Homo sapiens: one gene and its partners. The protein of the gene in region 5 purifies or fractionates together with the protein of the main gene of each other region. This does not show direct contact. Each region holds a gene or a part of one and is shown on either strand. Other genes may lie near its edges.

Region 1 (3,500 bases), on a different chromosome or scaffold from region 5:
AGCCACCACACCCGGCCATCAGTTTTCACATAAGATCATAAATTGTGTGTTGCTCAGTATCCAGAAATTGTCTCCCTTTGGCCAATATGTAGAGTGAATTCTGTGTTTAGTTTTCTGTGAGTGCTTTGTTTGCGCCTTTTTTTTTTTTTTTTTTTTTTTTGAGACGGAGTCTTGCTCTGTCACCCAGGCTGGAGTGCAGTGGCACAATCTTGACTCACTGCAGCCTCCGCCTCCCGGGTTCAAGCGATTCTGCCTCAGCCTCTTGAGTAGCTGGGATTACAAGCACGTGCCACCACGCCTGGCTAATTTTTTTGTATTTTTGGTAGAGACGGGGTTTCACCATTTTAGCCAGGATAGTCTCAATCTCCTGACCTCGTGATCTGCCCGCCTCAGCCTCCCAAAGTGCTGGGATTACAGGCATGAGCCACCGTGCCGGCCTGTTTGTGTCTTTAATGCGGAGACCAAGAGTCTTTTATACCAAAGTAAGTGCCTCAGGGTATTTACAGCAAAAGTGATTTGAAAGCATGGAAATTATCCATCACCAGAGAGAGTAAAGTAAATTCTGAGCACCTCTGTGGAAACTTAGGTGGGTATGTAGATAGAATGTTTTAGGAATGTGTGAGGTGCTATGATCTCTTGCTTGCAGGAATTCTCAGCAAGGCATCAAAAATTTAATCTTTATATTGATAGGACATATTTTGAATACCTTCTGACTTTTTCCTTTGCTTTTATTTGAATTTCTAGTGTGGAGCTAGTCTGCTGTTTTAGGGATTCTTTAAAAACAACCTAAAGAAGGGCTAATTTTAGATAGATTTGGACCGGTTTCAGATGCTAATCAAGAAATCTGTCATCTTATCGCCCATCACTCTCTCCTTTGGGCTGCCTGTGACACACCTCTCCATTCTTTAACCAAGACCCGTCTGATGCCTTTGCCCATGCTCTAGAATGCTCTCCTTAGAATTTTACATAGCTAGCTCCTCACTTTCTACTCTGTTTCAATTTCACTTTTTCAGCCAGAACATCCTGTTGACTCTATCCAGAATAAGCCCTGTGAACCTATTGAATAATTTATTTTAAAATCAGTGACTTTTAAATTTAAATTCTTTTTGGAGACAGAGTCTCAATCGCCTAGGCTGGGGTGTAGTGGCACAGTCACAGTTCACTGCAGCCTCAATCTCTTGGGCTCAAGTGATCCTCTTGCCTCAGCCTCCTGAGTAGCTAGGACCACAGACATGCGTTACCACACTGGGCTAATTAAATTTTTTACAGAGACAAGGTCTCACTGTGTTGCCCAGTCTGGTCTGGAACTCCTGGGCTCAAGTGATCCTCCTGCCTTGTGGATCCTGCCAAAGTGTTGGGACTTACAGGGGTGAGCCACTGTGCCCCAGCCCAGTGATTTTTTAAAATAAAAATCTGGATACAAAATGATCTGGAGAGAGAGGTTATAACTGGGTATGTTAGGGTTTTTCTGCAACTTCTGATTCTTTTAAAACAGGCATGATTTGCTGTAACTTTTAAAAAAGGGCCAGGTGTGGTGGCTCACATCTATAGTCCCAGCACTTTGGGAGGCCGAGGCAGATGGATCACTTGAGGTCAGGAGTGTGGGACCAGCCTCGCCAACATGATGAAACCCTGTCTGTACTAAAAATACAAAAATTATCTGGGTGTGGTGGTGGGTGCCTGTAATCCCAGCTACTGGGGAGGCTGATGCAGAAGAATTGCTTGAACCCGGGAGATGGAGGTTGCAGTGAGCTGGGATCGTGCCTCTGTACTCCAGCCTGGGCAGTAGAGTGAGACTACCTCTCAAAAAAGAAAAAAGAAAAAAAAAAGAAACTTCTGAAAAGTAGACATACGAGTTTAAAGAACCTTTAGGAATTTAGTTCTTAGTGATTCTGTGGGTCTTTTATGTTATCACTGTTATTCTCAAAGTGAGAGCTCATTTAGCATCATTCAGTAGAGGGAGATTACACATAAAAACGAAGAGGCATTGTCTTCCTTCCTTTTCTTTTTCTTTTCTTTTCTTTTCTTTTCTTTTTTTTTGAGATGGAGTTTCTCTTGTTGCCCAGGCTAGAGTGCAATGGTGCCATCTCGGCTCACTGCAACCTTCGCCTCCTGGGTTCAAACAGTTCTCCTGCCTCAGCCTCTCAAGTAGCTGGGATTACAGGCATGCGCCACCACGCCTGGCTAATTTTGTATTTTTAGTGGAGTTGGGGTTTCTGCATGTTGGTCAGGCTGGTCTTGAACTCCTGACCTCAGGTGATCCGCCCGCCTTGGCCTCCTAAAGTGCTGGGATTGCCACTGTGAACCACCGCGCCTGGCTCCTTCCCTCCTTTTTGAGATAGACTCATACATGCAGAGAATGGACTGAAGAGAGAATATCTTTACTGGGAATGGATTATGTGATTTTGTGTCTGCTTTTTTGTGGCCTTTTGCTTTAAAAAAAAAAAAAAAAGGATGAGTTCAAGCCTGGGCAACGTAGTGAGACCCCTCTTCCCCAAAAACCATAAAAAAAATTAGTTGGGTGTGATGGTGTGAGCCTGTAGTCCTAGCTACTCAGGAGGCTAAGGCAGGAGGATCACTTAAGCCCAGGAGTTTGAGACTGCAGTGAGTTATCATGGCCACGGCACTCCAGCCTTGACAACAGGGCAAGACCCTGTTTCTTACCAAAAAACAAAACAATAGGATGACTGAATGCAGAGGTGAGAGACACTACTGAGAATTTTCTAACTTGTTCCCATGGAATCAGCACTTAAAGCAGTAACAAAATGATTTTTGTTTAAATGGAGACTTTTGACACTTCTTGTCTTTGGAAGTGTATGAACATGGGACCCGTAAGACTCATGGGCAGGAAAATAGGTATTGACATTCATTGTTCTTGTTTTAGTGTTCTCATTCATTCATAATTTTTTTTTTTTTTGAGACAGAGTCTCACTCTGTCACCCAGGCTGGAGTGCAGTGGCACTATCCCAGCTCATTGCAACCTCTGCCTCCCAGGTTCAAGCAATTCTCCTGCCTCAGCTGCCTGAGTAGCTGGGATTACAGGTGTGCACCACTACACCCGGCTAATTTTTGTATTTTCAGTAGAGACAGGGTTTCACCATGTTGGCCAGGGTGGTGTAAAACTCCTGACCTCAAGTGATTCATCTGCCTCAACCTCCCAAAGTGCTGGGATTACAGGCGTGAGCCACCACACTTGGCCCACACTTGATATTTTATTTTTTAATTTTATTTATTTTTGAGACTGAGTTTCACGCTCTGTTGCCCAGGCTGGGGTGCAGAGGCACGATCTTGGCTTACTGCAACCTCTGCCTTCTGGATTCAAGCAGTTCTTCTGTCTCAGCCTTCTGAGTAGCTGGGATTATAGGCATGAGCCACCATGCCCAGCTACTTTTTGTATTTTTAGTAGAGATGGGGTTTCACCATGTTAGCCAGGCTGGTCTTGAACTCCTGACCTTGTTATCTGCCTACCTTGGCCTGCCAAAGTGTTGGGATTACAGGCA
Region 2 (3,500 bases), on a different chromosome or scaffold from region 5:
GTAGCTGGGACTACAGGCATGTTCCACACCTGGCTAATTTTTAAATTTTTTTGTAGAGACAGGGTCTTGTTATGTTGCCCAGGCTGGTCTTGAAATCCTGGACTCAAGTGATCTTCCCACCTTGGCCTGCCAAACTGTTGGAATTATAGGCTTGAGCCACTGCACCTGTCCTAAAGCAGGTAATTTTAAGAAGCTCCAAGTATTTGAGTCTTGTGCCTAGACTGAGATGAAGACGAAGGAAAAGGTGGTCCAGTCCTGTCCTGAAAACTGATGAGGAGACAGGTGCAGTGGCTCACGCCTATAATCCCATCACTTTGAGCAGCCAAGGCAGGAGGATGCTTGAGGCCAGGAGTTCAAGTACAGCCTGGGTAACAGAAAGAGACCCCATCTCTACAAAAACAAACAAAAGAAACCCAGAAAGGGCAGTCTATGAATATAACAGATGAAGGAAAGCCACCGCAGGGCCTTTTCGAACTGAGTTCAGCTTGTTCAACATGTTCCCTGAGTTCGTACTCTTTCTGATACACATGTCTGCATAATCTGGGACCGACAGAGCTTAGCGACCAGTGGGGAATGAGACAAGGACACTCTATCATAATTCAGTAAGATGACCTACCTAGAAGCAAGTTTCTGAGGTTTCTCAGTTGCTTGTATATAAGCCTAGCAGTGACAGAACACAAGGTCAGATTGGCTGAGGCATAAAAGATGAGGGGGAAGTAATTCAGGAACAGCTGAAGAGCCATGCAGGGACCACATTCATTTATTCTGTAACAACTACTTATTGAATTGCTAAAGTTAGTAATTAAGATCCCCCCTCTTTTTGTTGAGACGGAATTTCACTCTTGTTGCCCAGGCTGGAGTGCAATGGCGCAATCTCGGCCCACCACAACCTCCGCCTCCTGGGTTCAAGCGATTCTCCTGCCTCAATTAGCTGGGATTACAGGCATGTGCCACCACGCCCGGCTAATTTTGTATTTTTAGTAGACGGGGTTTCTCCATGTTGGTCAGGCTGGTCTCGAACTCCTGACCTCAGGTGATCCACCCGCCTCAGCCTCCCAAAGTGCTGGGATTACAGGTGTGAGCCACTACGCCTAGCCTATGATCCCATTTTAGAAGGTGGATGGCTTCAGTTCTACCATTTACTAACTTGTGGCCTTGGTTAAGTTATTTCATCTTGTTTCTTTATCAAAAAAAGGGGGGCGGGGTAATAATATTTTATACAGCCTATGTTTATTCTAACTGTTAAATGGGCTAGTACATTTAATACACAGTGAGCACACAAGGAATGTGAGCTATCACTGCAAAATGTCAGGCACTGTGCTAGAAATAAGGGGCTGGGACTGAAGTGGTGGGAGGGGACACGGCCTACCTCGGCATGTGAGGGACTCTAATTTACCGCAGGAATTTGAACTTGATGCTGGTGGCAGAGCAGAGTGTCTGACTTATTTTGAATAGAGGAGCAGCCTGCTCAAAACTGTGTTTTGGAAACATTGCTTTGGCTGCAGGATACGAGAGGCTCTTTTTTTTCTTAGTGTTTTTTTGCCTTTTTAAAATTTATATTTTTAAAACGTTTGTTAAATATTTTTCTAAATGCCCATCTCAGAGAAGAAAAGGCTCAAAACTTGAGATTAGATAGCAGACTGAAGCAAAATACACGGTTCGCTTTCTGATATGAAAGTATAATTTCTTTCTCTATTCAGGTGACCACCTTGGGAATTGCCCTTCAAGAAGCGACAGAAGCACCCTCCCTTGAGGAGCTTCCTCATTAACCTCCTCAGTGCTCACAGGGCACAGCTCTGTGTCAGAGGCCCTCATGCCTGTTCATCTCTAAGCATGCACCCACGTCAAGACCATGGAGAGCGGCTGGATGTGGTGGTTCACGCCTGTAATCCCAGCATTTTGGGAGGCCGAGGTGGGCAGATCATGAGGTCAAGAGATCAAGACCATCTTGGCCAACATGGTGAAACTCCGTCTCTACTAAACATACAAAAATTAGCTGGTCATGGTGGCGAGTGCCTGTAATCCCAGCTACTCAGGAGGCTGAGGCAGGAGAATCACTTGAACTAGGGAGTTGGAGGTTGCAGTGAGCCGAGATCATGTCACAGCACTCCAGCCGGGCAACAGCAAGACTCCTTCTCAAAAAAAAAAAAAAAAAAAAGACCATGGAGAGCAGGTATGACTGTTGGTGTTAGTTAGCCTTCCTTATGGCCACCAGCTTCACTATAGGAACTTCCCATAATGCACAGAAACCGGCGCCCTCAACCAACCCATCTACCACCAACAGAGCCATCTGTCCAAAAGGCAAGTGGAGTTGTGTTGTTGTTCCTGCTGAAACACTCCTGTGTCAGTCCCAGGCCTAAAGACCCAAACTCCTGAAGCCTGGCATAATTCAGAGCCTGCCATTTTTATAGCCTGGTGTCTCACACCTCTTTCTGTTGTCCCTAGGCTCTAAGTATCATACTCTTTATGGTTTGCTGAAATGGGTTATTCTGTTCTCCACTTGGAAGGCTGTTTTACCTTTTTGTTTTGCAAATTGAGGACTTGATATTTGACACCAATGTCCTCCCCTCTTGTTCCAGGAGACCAATGATTTTTACACCCCCACCAACTCCTCACCCTGAGCCTTTTTAAAGTTGTGGTATCTTCTGAACAAAGAAAACTATATAAGGAATCTTAAGACTGGATGCAGAGATGTTCTGGTTGAAGCAAGAGTCAAGGCCTAGAGTTCCATACTGCCACATACCAAAAGAACCTCATACTCTGAAAGAACAGACTTTGGCAAACACTGTCACACAGTGACAAGTTAAATTACTGCAACCTGTTTGGAGTGTAGTCTTGGTGGTAGCTATGAAAATTTAAAAATATACCTTTGACTTAGAATCTAACTTTCAAGAAGGAATACAACTACATTCCCACAAGAATGCAAAATTCTATGTGCAAAATGCTCATGCCAGCACGGAAAATGTGCTCCAATGGGGAAGTAGGAGTGGCTAAATTGCACAGGAGATCCATATGTGGGGCTACAAAAAGATCTCCAAGTTACTCCAGTAAATGGAAAAAAGACAAGCCGCATTTATCTGTTCCAGGAAACAACTTTCACAGCCACTAACAGGAAGACGGGCTAAATTAAAGCAGGGTACCCAAACCCCTGCATCAGAATACTAGACAGCCATTACAGTCACTAAATACAAAGCTGCAAAAGTAACGACATGTCCACCAAAGGGAGGCGCTAGGTTAAATCAATTATGGTACAGTCATACAATGACTACAGACAATATAAAAGTACAAAGAAGCTCTCTTGGTAGTACCATAAAAAGATCCCCACCAAGGCCGGGCATGGTGGCTCACGCTTGTAATCTCAGCACTTTGGGAGGCCAAGGAGGGCAGATCACCTGAGGTCGGGAGTTCGAGACCAGCCTGACCAACATGGTGAAACCCTGTCTCTACTAAAACTACAAAATTAGCCGGGCATGCTGGCGCATGCCTGTAATCCCAGCACT
Region 3 (2,346 bases), on a different chromosome or scaffold from region 5:
ACCCCTATTATTCTCAGTTCTGCTTTACCCCAATCAAGGCCACAAAAGAACCACCTTTATATACATAAGTTAAAAGGCAGAAAAGGCAATTAAAACACCTCACAGAAATCTAACACTATTTTGTTTTATTTTACTCTTTTGGCTAGGCCAAAACGAATTATTAAAATGTTCCATCTATAAAATTGATTTCTGAACCTCTTAAGATGTTTCTTAAGAACATAACTATACACATACATAGGCCTTTTAAAAGATGATTGGATAAAGGGCGCCAATTACTTGGGTTTTTCTGTTTGTTTAAAATACAGTATTACCTGTTATTTTGCCTGCTATGCTCCTCCTCTCTACTGCAGTAAAAATTCAGTTTAACTTGCAACTCAAAAATCCTAGATACAAAGAATGTTTACATTTACTGTTGAACTTGTAAATTGCCATTTATACTAATTGATTGCTTCGTAGTACCATACAGATACTTAATTCAGCTGATATTTATTGAATCAAGATTTAAAAAAATATAAAACCTCATTGGTTTTAATAGATTTTCTTCCTTTATATTTCAGTTACTACCCAAGTTAAAGCAAAAAGCTAAATCAAAGCTTTAAATTTTTTTTGGTTGAATTTACAACTGGTAGTTTTTTATCTTATAAAAATTGTAATTATAAAATTACAATCTACAGACACATGAGTCACACAACTACAGTTTTCCTTTATGTTAACCTGATGGTCTCCTTTGCTATTTTTAAGGCAGACATTTGGCATTAGAATTGCATACTGGAAACAGACACACACCCTTCATTGTGACAACAAGCAATTTTTTAAAAAAAATGTGTTGCTACAGTAACTGATGCATCTTGTTTTGGTTTGACGCCTAGTCTTCATGATTAGGCTAAAAGGTAATTTTTCTTCATTTCCAAAGTCAAACTTTTATAGTTAACAGTTCTCAGACGGGGATGCACATCAGGATCACCTGCGGTGTTCGTCAAACAACATACCTTGGCCTGGATAAGTCTAAGGTTGGTCCCAGGCCCACAAATTCCTCTTTAATTTTAAACAAGCATTAGGGGTGACTTTTATTATAACCTTCACCCCCTTCCCATTAAGAAACATGCCCTAGTATACAAATTAGTTCAAACCTTTAACTAGGAATACTAAATATACCCTACAGCCTTGGTAATTTGATAACACTTCAATAATACAGTTATAATTGGATGCCTCAAATCATAAACAATGGGTATTGTTATCCATTGTAATGTGGATTGCTATTCAAGTTAAGGAAAAAATATCAGATAATTCACCACTGCCACTCTGCAGAGTAATAGCAGACGCTTCTATAGTGCTTATGCCGGATACTCTTAAGCTATTTACACATTTGAATTCAATCCTTAAAACTGAAACAGATTTTTCCATTCTACAGCTGAGAAAAATGAATCAGAGGAATACACAGGTAATAAATGGGAATACACAGGTAATAAATGGTAATAAACAAACACTAGTCTGGCTCTAGAGTCCTTGCTGTTTTCCAGTATGCTCTGTGGCCTCCCTACATGTTAATTAAAATAGCACTTGTTACCTGTGATTACCACTAAAACTCAACATTTTATTTTCGGGAGGTTAGGACTGTTCTTTCCTTGAAATGGTAACAACAGTCAAACGTCAAGCTTTGGTAAGTTACATGCAACCATTTCTACTTAGGGGCCCATAACTCAATATTTAACATTTCAGTCTGTCACAGTTTCAAAGCTTCAAGTCTCCTTTCTTAATGGGGAAAACTCTACATTAAATTTTCTAACAAAGCTTTTTAAGGTCAAGGTTTATATTTTGTTTCAGAATATAGAGAGCTTAACCACCTTCAACTGTAAAATACTGTGGGTATCATGCTTCTCATTGAGCATCTTCTCAAATTCAGTATCACACTGTGACAGGTAGTCTCCCCAGGAGTCCTGCCTCTTAGTTCAGAGACACAAACATCATCCTGACACTAGGATTTTCCAAAGGGCCACATCTAGATCTTTGACACAAAGGTTGCTGATTTCATTCTAAAGGTCTATTTTCAAAACATTTTTTTTTAAGGTCACTTTTATTCTTTTTCTCTCTCCTACTGCAAAGTCCTCTGGGAAAACTAAGGCCCCCCAGGGTCAAAAGAGGGACAAGACTGTTAACAGTCCTGCCTACACAAACATCAAGTGAATTACTATTCTAATACCACCAAGGTAATCTCAACAACCATTTTCTGGGGTCACACAATGACACCAAATTTCTTCCCAGTGCTTTTTAATTCAAAGGATTCTCTTGCAATCCATCAAGGCTACTCTTGATTATTGATAAGCTCTTAAGATGTTACAATAACAA
Region 4 (3,500 bases), on a different chromosome or scaffold from region 5:
ACTGAGCATGTTTACTTAAACTTCCTTGGATTCAAAACAAAGCAAAACATATATTAAAGGTGTTCACTGGGCCTGTAAGAAAGGTTCCTTGGGAAATAGTTAATTATCAATTTTATTCCATGGCAATGTTTGCTTTATCACTTTGAATAGAGGATAATACTTACCATAAAATTAAGCACACCTGTTTTGTAATAAATATTGAATGCTTTCTTACCTGGAATGTAATTATCATATGGCCCAAAGTTTACTCTTTGGCTATTAAAACAAAAAAGAAAGGTTTTAGTTAATTTATATAAAAATCACTGTTTTAAACTGTCATTATTTTACTCCAGTACCTGCAACCAACAACTAGAGAAATATTTCACAATCTCAGATATCTTTTGTTATATAAGATTACTTCATCTCCAGGATAATAGAGATGAGCAAATGTGTTTTCAAATTACAACAGTACTAAATAATGGTCGATCAAACAAACTATATATACATACATGTATCACATATATGTGTGTATATTTTCAGATGTGCAATTTGTTTATATGTATTGTGTGTGTATAAGCAAATTGCACATCTGAAAATATACATTTAAAAAAATTACAAAAACACAGTTGAATTATTTTTCCCAGTTCATGCTCCAAATTCTCTCTTAATTGAATTTGAAACAAGGTATCACTTTGTAAACTCTACGCTTATGTAAAAGCATATCCTCAAAATAGTCTCAAAAAACTCCACCAAATCCAAATTATTAAATGGCCTATATGTGCACCTGTGAATTTGTGTGTGCATGTGTATATGTCAGTGTGGACCACAAAAATTCGTAAGGAATTTCATTACTTTTTAAAGAAAATCTGAAAAAGAAACTATATTGCAAATTGTTTTCCATTTGTAGGTTCCCATTTGTTTTATTACTATCTTAACATGTTTGTTCCCACGAAGGAGTGTTTTACGATCTAATTTTTATTTATTGGTGATGGAGACCAATCCTAAGATCTATTAGAGAAATATTATTTTACATTGTTTCATTATATTTTGGATATAGAGCCATCGTTGGTCATGAGTGAGTTTGAGGCTTTTGTGCTCATACACAAACACACACGTGGTGTTTATTTGACAGCGTGTAAAACTTAAGGTTTAAGCATAGAAAAGCAGTATCTTGATACCTTGACTAAAGAATGAAGCTAGCAGCATAAAACGTGGCACATTTTTTCGTGCTATAAAAATTTGTATTAGCTGAATAATATTTAATATGTTTTCACCAATAAGTTATCCAGCCTATCATTTTCTTAAACTGAGTACATGCACCAAAATTACTTGCCCCATCATATCTGAATCTCTAAATTCAGATCCAGTCAAAGTACATTTATATACTACAGAAGAAATGTTGATACCCAACAATGATTATGAACTGCATTATTCCAAATGCTCTCGAAGAGGAAAGATTTTAAGTTCATGAAACACTATTAAACTTGATATTTTCAAAATAGATTTTCAAAATAGAATGATCTGTTAATTTCTTCTATAATTGCTAGGACATATTATTTAATCACCCAGCAATTGAATTTGAAATCAATAATAAAATTATCTAGACAATATATAAATATTTGAAAATTAAACAGCTCCTTTTAAAGAACCAGTGGTCCAAAAGAGATCACAATGAAAACCTATTTAAAAAGAAGCAACTGAACAATAAGATAATTATGAAAATGATAGAATACTGCTTAAAAGTTCATAGAGAATAACTTACAGTTTTAATATTTTATATTATAAAAAATGTTTAAAATCAATGTTTTACATCTCTCCATTGAAACTAGGAAAACAATATAAGAAAAGAAGTAGAGGAGGAGTAAGTATGTTTCAACTCATTTTCAAGGCTAATATAAATAACCCAAATCCTTTTGAGGTCAATTCTAAAAATGCATATTACAGATGAATATCCCACATTATTATAGACACATAATTTCTTAAAATTTAAAAAATCATACTGACAAACATATAAAATTGCTAATACATCATGATCATCTGGTTTACTTTCCAGAATATGAGGTTGGTTTGACCTAAAATCAACCAATGCAATCATTCCAATTGACAAAATAAATAAGAAAAATCATCTGATCATTTCAGTATATGCAGAATAATTTTTGAAAGAAAGTAATATGCATTCGTAATTAAAAAGTCAGAGAAAACCAGCAATAGAGAACATAGCCCACAGATTGATAGAATACATCTAGATAATGCCTGTTTTTAAAATTAAACTTATTGGAGGAATATTGACTGTCTTTCCTTAAAAATCAGAAACAAGGCAAAGATAAACCTACTGTATCTATTCAGCATTTAAATCCAGATCCTATTTTGTTTCATAAAGCAATAAAAGCACTAAGATTGAAAAGGAAGAAGTAAAATTGTCTTTATTTGTAGAGGATACAGTTGGGTAAATATGATATCCAGTGACATCTATAATAATAACTGTTAAAGCTGCCAATCAAATGTAATAAGTTTATATGATACAGAGTTTAATGAATTATACTAGTTTAATGATTATATGATAAATAGTTTAAATGAAGTATATTTCTATATACCAGCAAAATTAGAAGATAAAAATTTAGGAAAATTAATTAAAACTTGAAATAACACAAAAGCAAATTATACAGAAACAAGTTATTAAAATACATATAAAAGCTGCATAAGTGAATTAAAACTTTTCCTCTAGGAAATAAAGAAAAGGAAGAAAACAAAAGTCCACAGAAAGACTTAGACAAAAATGTTCATAGCAATTTTATTCACAATAACCTCAAACTAAAAGCAACTCAAGTGTCCATCAACAAAGGAATGGATAAACTAAGTGTGCTATGTAAATGTAATGGAATACTTCTTAGCAATCGAAAGGAATAAATTACTTATATGTGCAATATAGAAACTTTAATGAATACAAAGGAATATTATATTGAAAGAAAAAGTCCAGAAATACTAGCACATACACAATATAATTTTATTGTATTCACTTCAAAAATAAGGAAGACTCTATAGGGTAACTGAACAGTCATTGGTTGGAGAAAAGCAAGTTGGATTGACTGGAATCTGTCATAATGTATCTTTTTTGTGTGATCAAAGTTTTCTATGTATTTCTTAGTGTTTATGAGATTAGAGTTAGTGACAGTTCAATACATTTTAACCTCTTGCATTTTTAGTAAGAATCATTTATAGGAACCCAAACAGCAATAAACCAAATACCCTTGCCCCTACTGACTATGCAAATGTGTGTGATAAGCAATTAAAGCAATTTGATCTTTTGGATTTGATAGCACTTTCCCACTCTTTAAGTCTGGCTTTGCTGGTGAGAGCATCTCTTTCCTTTCCTCTCTGGTACAGTCAAGTAATTATCTAGGTCAGGGTGCATTTGCATTCAATTTTTGACATTCTTATTAAAGAAACTTACAAACTGTCTTATTGAAAATAAACTTAGTATATCCCTTATTTTTATTTTGAGATATATTTATATGAATGTA
Region 5 (2,217 bases):
TTAATTTAGCAATCCATCACGCAGCATGAGGGGCAGTTATTTGTGCAGCTTGATCCTTGCTAGTAATTAAAACTATGGGGTGAACTATGCCAAAAATGACCTACATAGTTACTATAGTTACATGAAAATTAAAGCTAAAGTTAAAACACAATATGCTGGCCGGGCACAGTGGCTCACGCCTGTAATCCCAGCACTTTGGGAGGCCGAGGCGGGCAGATCACGAGGTCAGGAGATAGAGACCATCCTGGCTAACACGGTGAAACCCCGTCTCTACTAAACAAAATACAAACAATTAGCCAGGCATGGTTGCGGGAGCCTGTAGTCCCAGCTACTCAGGAGGCTGAGGCAGGAGAATGGCGTGAACCCAGGAGGCGGAGCTTGTAGTGAGCCGATATCTCCCCACTGCACTCCTGAACGACAGAGTGAGATTGCATCTCAAAAAAAAAAAACAAAAAAAACTCAATATGCAAAAGTCAGCAGGGTTATACTAATCTCAGCAAATTAAGATTGTACGTTTACCAATGTTTAGTATTCAGAGTAGTTTATTTCCTGAAATCTTATATACCATCTTCAATTTCAATTTTTATTTGACAGATATTAAAAGCTGATCAGGAAAAATATTTATAATAAATGAAAAGAAAGCATACATCATAATATATACAATGACTTGATTTTATAAAACAAAATATAATATAGCCATATTGTATACATCAAAATGTTTACAGTGATAACAAGTCCTTGGAGGCAAAAATCCTTGTCTTACTCATCTTTATGGTCCCATATTATAGCAGAGTGCTTGGCACAGAGTAGATGTTAAGTAAGTGTTTATTGTAAAAATGGAAGTGAATAATGTATGTCTTCAAAAAAAAAGATACCCAGTCAAGTAAATATATGAAACTTTAATATGTTTGCATCTGAAACATACAAAAGCCTAAAGATAAAGTCAATATCTAACTAAAATTCTCTAATGTATCTTCATTATTATAAAGTTAAGTCTTTAGTCAAAAATTCAGCTCTAAAAATACAGTCTCAAAAAATCACATATCTACATATAATACTAAGACAAGTAAATTGTCGGCCAGGCACAGTGGCTCACGCCTGTAATCCCAGCACTTTAGAAGGCCAAGACAGGTGGATCGCCTGAGGTCAGGAGTTGGAGACCAGCCTGGCCAACACGGTGAAACCCTGTCATTACTAAAAATGCAAAAATTAGCCGGGTGTGGTGGCGGGCACCTGTAGTCCCACCTACTTGGGAGGCTGAGGCAGGAGAATTGCTTGAACCTGGGAGGCGGAGGTTGCGGTGAGCCGAGATCACGCCATTGCACTCCAGTCTAGGTGACAAGAGTGAAACTCCATCTCAAAAAAACAAAACAAACACAAAAACAAAACAAGTAAATCATCTTAAGCTGCATCGTCATCATCATCATCCACTGCAGCGTAAATGGCTTGATTCCTCCTCTTAATTTTCTTTCTTTGTTCAGGTTCATGTTCATCACTCAGCCTCTTCAATGGCACCTTGGTTAAGTCCTCTCCATTCCCTGACTCCACAGTCCCACCAGGTTTCCCCTCTCTATCAATTGTGGAATCCACCGTATCATCAGAAGATACAATCATAGAGCCTGGCAAGATCCTGACATCAGAGAAACTTGCAGAAAACTCAGAAGCTTGATCAGAAGGTTCTACCGATGGTGTATTCATGCCACTATGTGCACTTACAATACTATCTTCATCTTCTTCTTCATCTAACATTATTTCATCTGGATTAATAGAAGACAGAGCAGATGTGTCTGTATTATATTCACTCTGGTCTTCTCCAGAGTCATTACTCTCCACATCATCCTGTTCTTCATATTCACCACACACATGATGTTCTTCCTTGGACTTCTGAAGCCTAACATTGATGTCTATGATGCCAAGTTGGGCACAAAATTCAGTTGTCTGAGGATTGATCCTATGAATCAGCTGCATTTGTGTCTGTGGCTTGCTAGGATCATAACAAGCAGCTGTTACACTAAAGTTACATGGAACCTTGAGATCATGATTCAATTTTTCCAATACTTCTTTCATACCTTCTTCTGTTGCACTATAATCCCACCTATAAAAGTACAAAACAATAGCTTTTTACATTTTATCAGCTCTAAACAATAAATGATGAAATCTAATTACAGACTTCAGGTGCAAGGATAAAAAATAAGCCATCTATCAAAATTCCATTTT
Region 6 (3,500 bases), on a different chromosome or scaffold from region 5:
TGGCCAGTAGTCTATTATCTGTTCTTCTTCAGCACAGTGTGCCATGCTATACCTCTGCTTAAAACCTACAACAGTCTCTCAGTGACCTTAGAATAAAGAGCAAAATCCTGACCGGGTGTGGTGGCTCACACCTGCAGGTCCAACAACTTTGGGATGTGGAGGTGAGGAAATTGCTTGAGTTTGAGACCAGCCTGGACAACAGAGTGACACCCCATCTCTATTAAAAAAAATAAAATAAAATAAAAAAAAGACCAAAATCCTTAATATGGCCTACACAGATCTGCATGACTTGGCTCCTGCCCATCACTCCGAAACCCTTCAGCACCACTTTCTCTTTGCTCTCTGAGCTTTTCACACCACCCTTTTGCAGCCTTCAGTTCACACATACTGTTCCTTAAGCCCAAATGCTTCTCTTCTGCTCCTGTTCCCATGCACCTTTGCCTTGCTGACTGTTATTCATCCTTCAGGTCTCTGCTGTAAACACTCCATGAGGCCTGCCTTGAAGTCCCTACCCATCCTCCACCACTGGCTAGATGACAGCTATGTGTCATACGCTCTTTTCATATTCTACATGTTTTTTAAGTTAATTTTTTTAAATCAAAGTAACATATGTCCACAGTTTAAAAAGTCAAATGGTACTATAAGGTTTATGCTCCCCACCAAAAAAGGGCCAGCAGTGCCTTACTTCAACCTTCTCTTATCCCCCAGGCCCACTCCCTGTACGCAACCATTTTCAACTCCTTTTTTTTTTTTTTGAGATGGAGTCTCACTCCATTGCCCAGGCTGGAGTGCAATGGCACGATCTCGGCTCACTGCTACCTCCACCTCCTGAGTTCAAGTGATTCTCCTGCTTCAGCCTCCCGAGTAGCTGGGATTACAGGCACATACCACCACCCTCAGCTAATTTTTGTATTTTTAGTAGAGATGGGGTTTCACCGTGTTGGCCAGGCTAGTCTAGAACTCCTGACCTCGTTATCCGCCCACTCCGGCCTCCCAAAGTGCTGGGATTACAGGCGTGAGCCACTGCGCCCAGCCTTCAATTCCTTTTAACTGTTTCTCCAGTATCCTGCATGCTTCCTCAGTGATACCCAGATCTGTCTTCAACATCTGTCTTCTCAGCTGGGCTAAAATAGCATTAAAACAGAGATCAACCACACATGTCTGTTTGACTTCTGTATCCACCATTAAGTAAAATGCCTGACACTCAATAGGCATTTTATAAACATCTGTTAAATGACCATAGCTTCACAAACAACATCTGAGATTAAAAAAACAAAAACATAAACACACACACACCAAAAGTGGCCTTAAGAGTTAAGGTGTATTTGCGTAGATGTGTCACTTTGCAGATGACTTGCAAAATTTCCTTGATATTACAAATTTATAAATATTTCTCACCTGACTTAGCTGAAACATCAGAGGAATTTGTACTTTTGGAAAACGAGTTCTGTCCTACAGATTAAAATAAAGCAATATAATGTAAATGGGGAAAATATAGTCATCCTCAATATACAACAACCAGATAGCAAAGAGGTCTGAAAAAAAGTATGAGTATTCAATTTCCCTCAGTTAAGCAAAATGGGAAAAGCCACATCCATGATAGTTCTCATGATTTATGGGCTTGAAAATGTATCTCACCAGGCTTATGTATTTCTGGTTTTTCTTCATCATCAGCTTCTCCACTGTCCTCAGCATCTTCTTCAACTTGATTTCTGAACCTTGGTTGGCTCCACTCTGTAGCAGTATTGCTGTAACTAAGAGAAAATAATATTATTCAATAAAGAGCTATGCAAAGACCAACTTAACATTCAAGACAGTAAAGGAAAATTCAAACAACTAAATTATTTCTTACCCAGCATTCAGCTTTTTTCTGAAATCTTCTTCTTCTTCTTCCTCTTCCACCTGGGTTGCTGTCAATTCGGCTGCCTTCTCTACAGCCAGTTCACTTAGTTTTTGAGCCAGTATTAATTTCCGAGAGCGAGAAGCATATTTAATGGCTAAATTCACAGCATTTTGAGTCATTAGATCAGCAAGTTCCACACAACGGAATTCTCGCTCCAGTTTACAAGAAAGCTAATCCAAAAAGGGGGGGGGGGGGGAGATCAAATAACATCAAGTAAAACTTTTTAAAGATACTGACACTACTAGTAAAACTGAGACAATAGTTTTCTAGCTACTCTATCTCCCTAATTCTAAGATGCACATTTTTACAAGTTTTAACATCTCTGAAATTGGAATTACAATTAATTACAATTAATGGTGGGTCAGTTTGGCAGCATTTTTATGTCTCCATGGCTTAAATGAATAAAGTAATGGTGCACTATGCAATAAACAGTGGCTTAGATTTGATGAAATATTACATACCACTTTAATCTACTAATTGCAAGAAAATTAAGAAATTTGTTTAAAAAATTCAAGGGGGAGGCTGGGCACGGTGGCTCACGCCTGTAATACCAGTGCTTTGGGAGGCCCAGATGGGTGGATCATGAGGTGAGGAGTTCGAGATCAGCCTGGCCAATATGGCAAAACCCCGTCTCTACTAAAAACACAATTAGCCAGGCGTGGTGGCGTGCGCCTGTAATCCCAGCTACTCGGGAAGCTGAGGCAGGAGAATCGCTTGAACCCGGGAGGTGGAGGTTGCAGTGAGCCAAGATTGCACCACTGCACTCCAGCCTGGGCGAGAAAGCGAGACTCTGTCTCAAAAAAAAAAAAAAAAAAAAAAATCAAGGGGGCCAGGTGTGCTGGCTCACACCTGTAATCCTAGCACTTTGGAAGGCCAAGGCAGAGGGACTGCTAGAGGCCAGGAGTTTGAGACTAACCTGGGCAACACAGTGAGACCCTATAACTACAAAAAATAAATTAGCTGGGCGTGGTGGCATGCACCTGCAGTCTTATCTACTCAGGAGCCTGAGACAGGAGGTTCACTAGAGCCCAGGAGGTTGAGGCTGCAGTGAGTTACAATCTTGCCACTGTACTCTAGCCTGGGTAACAGAGTGAGACCCTTTCTCTAAAAAATACAAAAAAGAAAAACAACAAACTGAGAAAAGTTGGTATTTTGAAGATTACTAAGGGTCTCCTAATTCATAGTGTATTAGAACTATTTTCTTACTTAGATATTCCATGTCTGATCCATCAGCACAAAAGCTTTAGATATTCACCTGGATGCCCTTTTCAAGATTTTTAGTATCATTTATCTATAATCAGTACTTCTTAATCGGGATGGTACACTGCCTCAGGGGGCATTTAGAAATAAAAAGGAAGCCGGGCGCAGTGGCTCACACCTGTAATCCTAGCACTTTGGGAGACTGAGACAGGTGGATCACAAGGTCAGGAGATCGAGACCATACTGGCTAACACGGTGAAACACAGTCTCTATTAAAAATACAAAAAATTAGCTGGTGTGGTGGCAGACAACTGTAGTCCCAGCTACTCGGGAGGCTGAGGCAGGAGAATGGCGTGAACCTGGGAGGCGGAGCTTGCAGTGAGCAGAGATCGCGCCA
Region 7 (3,500 bases), 4.5 Mb from region 5:
ACTTTAGAAAAAATTAACATTAAAAATGATCAGATACACAGTTCTTTTATAGTGGTATTTTACTCAGTCTTCTAAGTTATGAAATATACAAATAATGATACAATGCAAAAAATAGTTTTCAACATTTGATGAAGCCTTGATATTGACATCAACAAATTTCTAATACAGCCTAACAGCAGTATGCAAAAGCTGTATCACCATATTAAGGATCAACAAACCTTTTCTCTAGGGTGCGGAGCCACAGGGGGGTTGGCGAGTGGAAAGGCAATACTGGGGGCTTGAGGCGTAGGGATCAGGTGGCTGTCTTTTATGGGAGTTTCCAGTTCTTCAGAGATTGGGTGTTTGGGAGCTTCAGTCACACGTATGTTTCCAGGATCACAGACAGCTGAGGACAATAAAATGCTGCAGTGTGACAGGATCCAAATAAGACTAAAAACAAATTCTAGGAAATATTCTCATCTGTCTTAGTCAAGATGAAGTCAAGCACAAACTCTGGAATGTAAAAAGTACAGGCAAAAAAGTATCCTATCCCCAGAACTTATAAATAAATGCATCCCATCTGCATGTGACAATAATAACAATAAAGAAAAAATGCAATTTATTAGCATTAAACAGAGCAAGTGTGTTATCTGTGGGCTTCTCCCAACATTTTCCTTAAATACCAAGTTTTCATTGTTAAGTGTAACCCAAATTTGTAACATGAGAGCAATTCTACACTTGGAGAAAAGCAGAAGCAGAGATAAATCTATATATCTAATGGGAGGTCATCATGCAATGTGAAAAAGAAGAAAAGGAAGAAAAAAGATGAGAGATAGGAAAATTTTGTTTTTAAGGTAAAGCTCAAGGAAGAAAAAAAATAGGAGAATTCAGAAAGAAACTCATACAATCCAAAGAACAAATGTAGGTATGTGCTAGGCAGAATTCAAAAGACTTAAATGAAAATAAGATGATAGGAAGAAAAACCAAGCATTAACTCCACAAACACAAAAAGGGTTAGCTAGAATAAAAGAACAATGGTAGACACCATGTCTAGAAAAAAACGCCCAATTCTAAATTTCCAAATTTATGAAAATGTTTTTCAATTTACTGATGAAGTACCTCAATTTACAAATTATTTTTCTGGCTCAAGTTTAAACCAAAACCAGAAATATCTACGAAGTTTTTTTTGTTTGCACATTCAGATCAGAGAACTACAACATGCTCATCTGTTTATTTTTAAGAGGTCAACATGTACTTAATACAAACAAATGCAAAGATTTCTTTCTTGTTACCCTGTTTAGCAATTTCTGAATCATGTAAAGGCTTTTGAAAAGGAGAATCCTCCAAGTTTTGAATGTCAACCTGAAGCTCAGAGTATTGTGTGGGACAACTAGGCCACTGCAAATTGCTGGCAAGCCTTGCTCTCTCCTCCCTTGCTGTAGGGTCATCCCAAATGATCTGTTCATTTTGGGAAGGCTCTGTGTTGACATCAGGTACTGTCTGACGAGACTGCCTAAGGAATAGAAGTGACAGTTTAAATAAACAGCAATAACAAATCCAAACTCATTAAATCCATAAGTTAGACCATAAAAGTTGTGGCTCACCTTTATATGCCCACCATCTAGCACACAGTATGCATTAAAAATATTAAATAAATGAACCTAGGGACATTTTTTTTTTTTAAAAAGGTTTAAGGTTTCTTCCAGAAAAGTTATCTGTTTTAGCTAGGAACACATATTTTGACTACATGTCTACAGAACTAAAACTTCAAAGGAGAAATTCAACAGTGTCAAGAAATTTTTTAAAAATACTAAAGTAATTGGTACATTTAAAAATGTGATTTTCCTTAATTATACAGGTTAGGGAAACAGGGTAATGTTTCAAACACTATGGTTACTTTACTTAACAGTAGTTATATTTTTTAATTACTTGAAATTATAAGCACTATGATTACATGGGAGGCTTGCTGTAAAGGCTGCCTTATCAGAAGGGCCTTTTGGCTATTGGTAACCACTTTCCAGAGTCTACGGTGGAACAGCAATATGCTGAATTACAGGGAAGTGCATTTTATGGTGCGATTGTAATGATTCCACGTGACAGTAAATAGAAGTCCTATAATTTTCTTTATATTCACTCATTCATTCATTCTTAGTAAAAATAATTTACCATAAAACTTACACTGTGGAGAAGCAAAAAAAAAAAAAACAAAAAACAAAAAACAAAACAAAACACCAAAACCCATAAAACAATTTACCAAAGGAACCCCCAAATAGTTCCTTTGCTTCAAAAATAAAGAATATAGCCTTTTATTCTCACACTATATTTATTTACTCTGATTTGGTACAGGATTTAGGTTCTCTATAATGATAAAACATGATCTGAAGCATATTAAAAAGCTACTTTACTCAGTACTGAGATAATGAACTGCCTCATGTAATACAGTTAGCGTAAGATAAATGCTAGTTTATCTTATACTTAATTCAATTAGTCAACTGAAAATACAAGTCCCATAATTCTTATCACACAATTATAGATTTTTTTCTTCTATCACGAAAAAGATGAAGTTATGCAACTGAGCTTAAGTCACATCACACTAGAAACTGTAATCACCTTTTCTAGAAGATAAATTTTACAAGGAGAATACAAAATGCATGCAAAATCCCAACAAAAATAACTTTAAGATTTTACATATTGCATTAGAAAAAGACTCTGAAAAAATATATATGTACTTATTGTTTAATACAAATACTATTGAATACTAATACTAAAGAGCAGAGAGAACTGCCTACTGAATCCATTTCAAATGAGGCAAATTAGATCTTAAAATCATTTCTTTCTCAACGGAGGTAATAAAAAGTATCAATCATGCCTCACTGTGAAGCAGGTGCTGCTGTAAGACAAATCTCCATGTCTGCTCCACCTCCGAGTAAGAAATCTAGAACTGCTGGGAGCAAGAAATGGAAGGACAAGCTAGAACGAAAAATCTAGTCAGCAGAGAGCCAAAAGCAATAGATAATACTGGAATATAATATTTACTGTTTGGGCTAAATAAGGCCTAGGCATATAACCCCTTCACTAGTCTTGATATTTAAATTTCAGCTTTTACTGCATATTGGGGAAAAAAAGAAAAAAAAGCTAAATTAGGCCAAGCTCATGGAATTGAGTCAGCAGCAGGTACGTAAATCCTTTCTCTCAAGTCATCTAGTCTTTCTGCCATCAGTGACAGGTACACACCTCAGTGCCTCTAGGACTCTACTTCGTCCACTGCGAGCAGAGCGAGTGCTGTCAGGGGTTGAAGATGCGCTGTTACAACCACTTCTTGAAAGGGAAGTCCTCTGCCCTTGGGGTTTCACTATTGATGTTGCAGACATTATCTCCTGTAACTGCTTCTGAAAGTTCTCTCTCATCTCTAAGGTCTGTGTCAGAACTTGAAACAAACACAAATACACCATTCAAGGTAAGTTCCTCTTTTTTACCATATCTTACATTAACTATTTTGTTTAGACCTGGTTGAACACAAA

Evidence for each region.
Region 1: the proteins of DBR1 (region 5) and SPAG9 purify together in Homo sapiens (affinity purification with mass spectrometry, with the first as the bait; one large-scale study listed by BioGRID). This does not show direct contact.
Region 2: the proteins of DBR1 (region 5) and HNRNPUL1 purify together in Homo sapiens (affinity purification with mass spectrometry, with the first as the bait; one large-scale study listed by BioGRID). This does not show direct contact.
Region 3: the proteins of DBR1 (region 5) and SMNDC1 purify together in Homo sapiens (affinity purification with mass spectrometry, with the first as the bait; one large-scale study listed by BioGRID). This does not show direct contact.
Region 4: the proteins of DBR1 (region 5) and CYLC2 purify together in Homo sapiens (affinity purification with mass spectrometry, with the first as the bait; one large-scale study listed by BioGRID). This does not show direct contact.
Region 6: the proteins of DBR1 (region 5) and WDHD1 purify together in Homo sapiens (affinity purification with mass spectrometry, with the first as the bait; one large-scale study listed by BioGRID). This does not show direct contact.
Region 7: the proteins of DBR1 (region 5) and TOPBP1 purify together in Homo sapiens (affinity purification with mass spectrometry, with the first as the bait; one large-scale study listed by BioGRID). This does not show direct contact.

Annotation. Positions count from the first base shown.
Region 1 is NC_000017.11:51,114,369-51,117,868, reverse strand, and holds part of SPAG9 (C-Jun-amino-terminal kinase-interacting protein 4), read left to right. Parts: intron 1-3,500. UniProt on the Homo sapiens protein: The JNK-interacting protein (JIP) group of scaffold proteins selectively mediates JNK signaling by aggregating specific components of the MAPK cascade to form a functional JNK signaling module.
Region 2 is NC_000019.10:41,288,372-41,291,871, reverse strand, and holds part of HNRNPUL1 (heterogeneous nuclear ribonucleoprotein U-like protein 1), read right to left. Parts: intron 1-3,500.
Region 3 is NC_000010.11:110,290,230-110,292,575, forward strand, and holds the end of SMNDC1 (survival of motor neuron-related-splicing factor 30), read right to left. Parts: 3' UTR 501-2,346; downstream 1-500. UniProt on the Homo sapiens protein: Involved in spliceosome assembly.
Region 4 is NC_000009.12:102,998,333-103,001,832, reverse strand, and holds part of CYLC2 (cylicin-2), read right to left. Parts: intron 256-3,500; coding exon 215-255; intron 1-214. UniProt on the Homo sapiens protein: Plays a role in the establishment of normal sperm morphology during spermatogenesis. It is required for acrosome attachment to the nuclear envelope, and proper manchette elongation and disassembly.
Region 5 is NC_000003.12:138,160,488-138,162,704, forward strand, and holds the end of DBR1 (lariat debranching enzyme), read right to left. Parts: intron 2,096-2,217; coding exon 1,402-2,095; 3' UTR 501-1,401; downstream 1-500. UniProt on the Homo sapiens protein: Cleaves the 2'-5' phosphodiester linkage at the branch point of excised lariat intron RNA and converts them into linear molecules that can be subsequently degraded, thereby facilitating ribonucleotide turnover.
Region 6 is NC_000014.9:54,961,100-54,964,599, forward strand, and holds part of WDHD1 (WD repeat and HMG-box DNA-binding protein 1), read right to left. Parts: intron 2,074-3,500; coding exon 1,853-2,073; intron 1,755-1,852; coding exon 1,639-1,754; intron 1,453-1,638; coding exon 1,399-1,452; intron 1-1,398. UniProt on the Homo sapiens protein: Core replisome component that acts as a replication initiation factor. Binds directly to the CMG complex and functions as a hub to recruit additional proteins to the replication fork.
Region 7 is NC_000003.12:133,616,942-133,620,441, forward strand, and holds part of TOPBP1 (DNA topoisomerase 2-binding protein 1), read right to left. Parts: intron 3,407-3,500; coding exon 3,214-3,406; intron 1,493-3,213; coding exon 1,272-1,492; intron 386-1,271; coding exon 219-385; intron 1-218. UniProt on the Homo sapiens protein: Scaffold protein that acts as a key protein-protein adapter in DNA replication and DNA repair. Composed of multiple BRCT domains, which specifically recognize and bind phosphorylated proteins, bringing proteins together into functional combinations.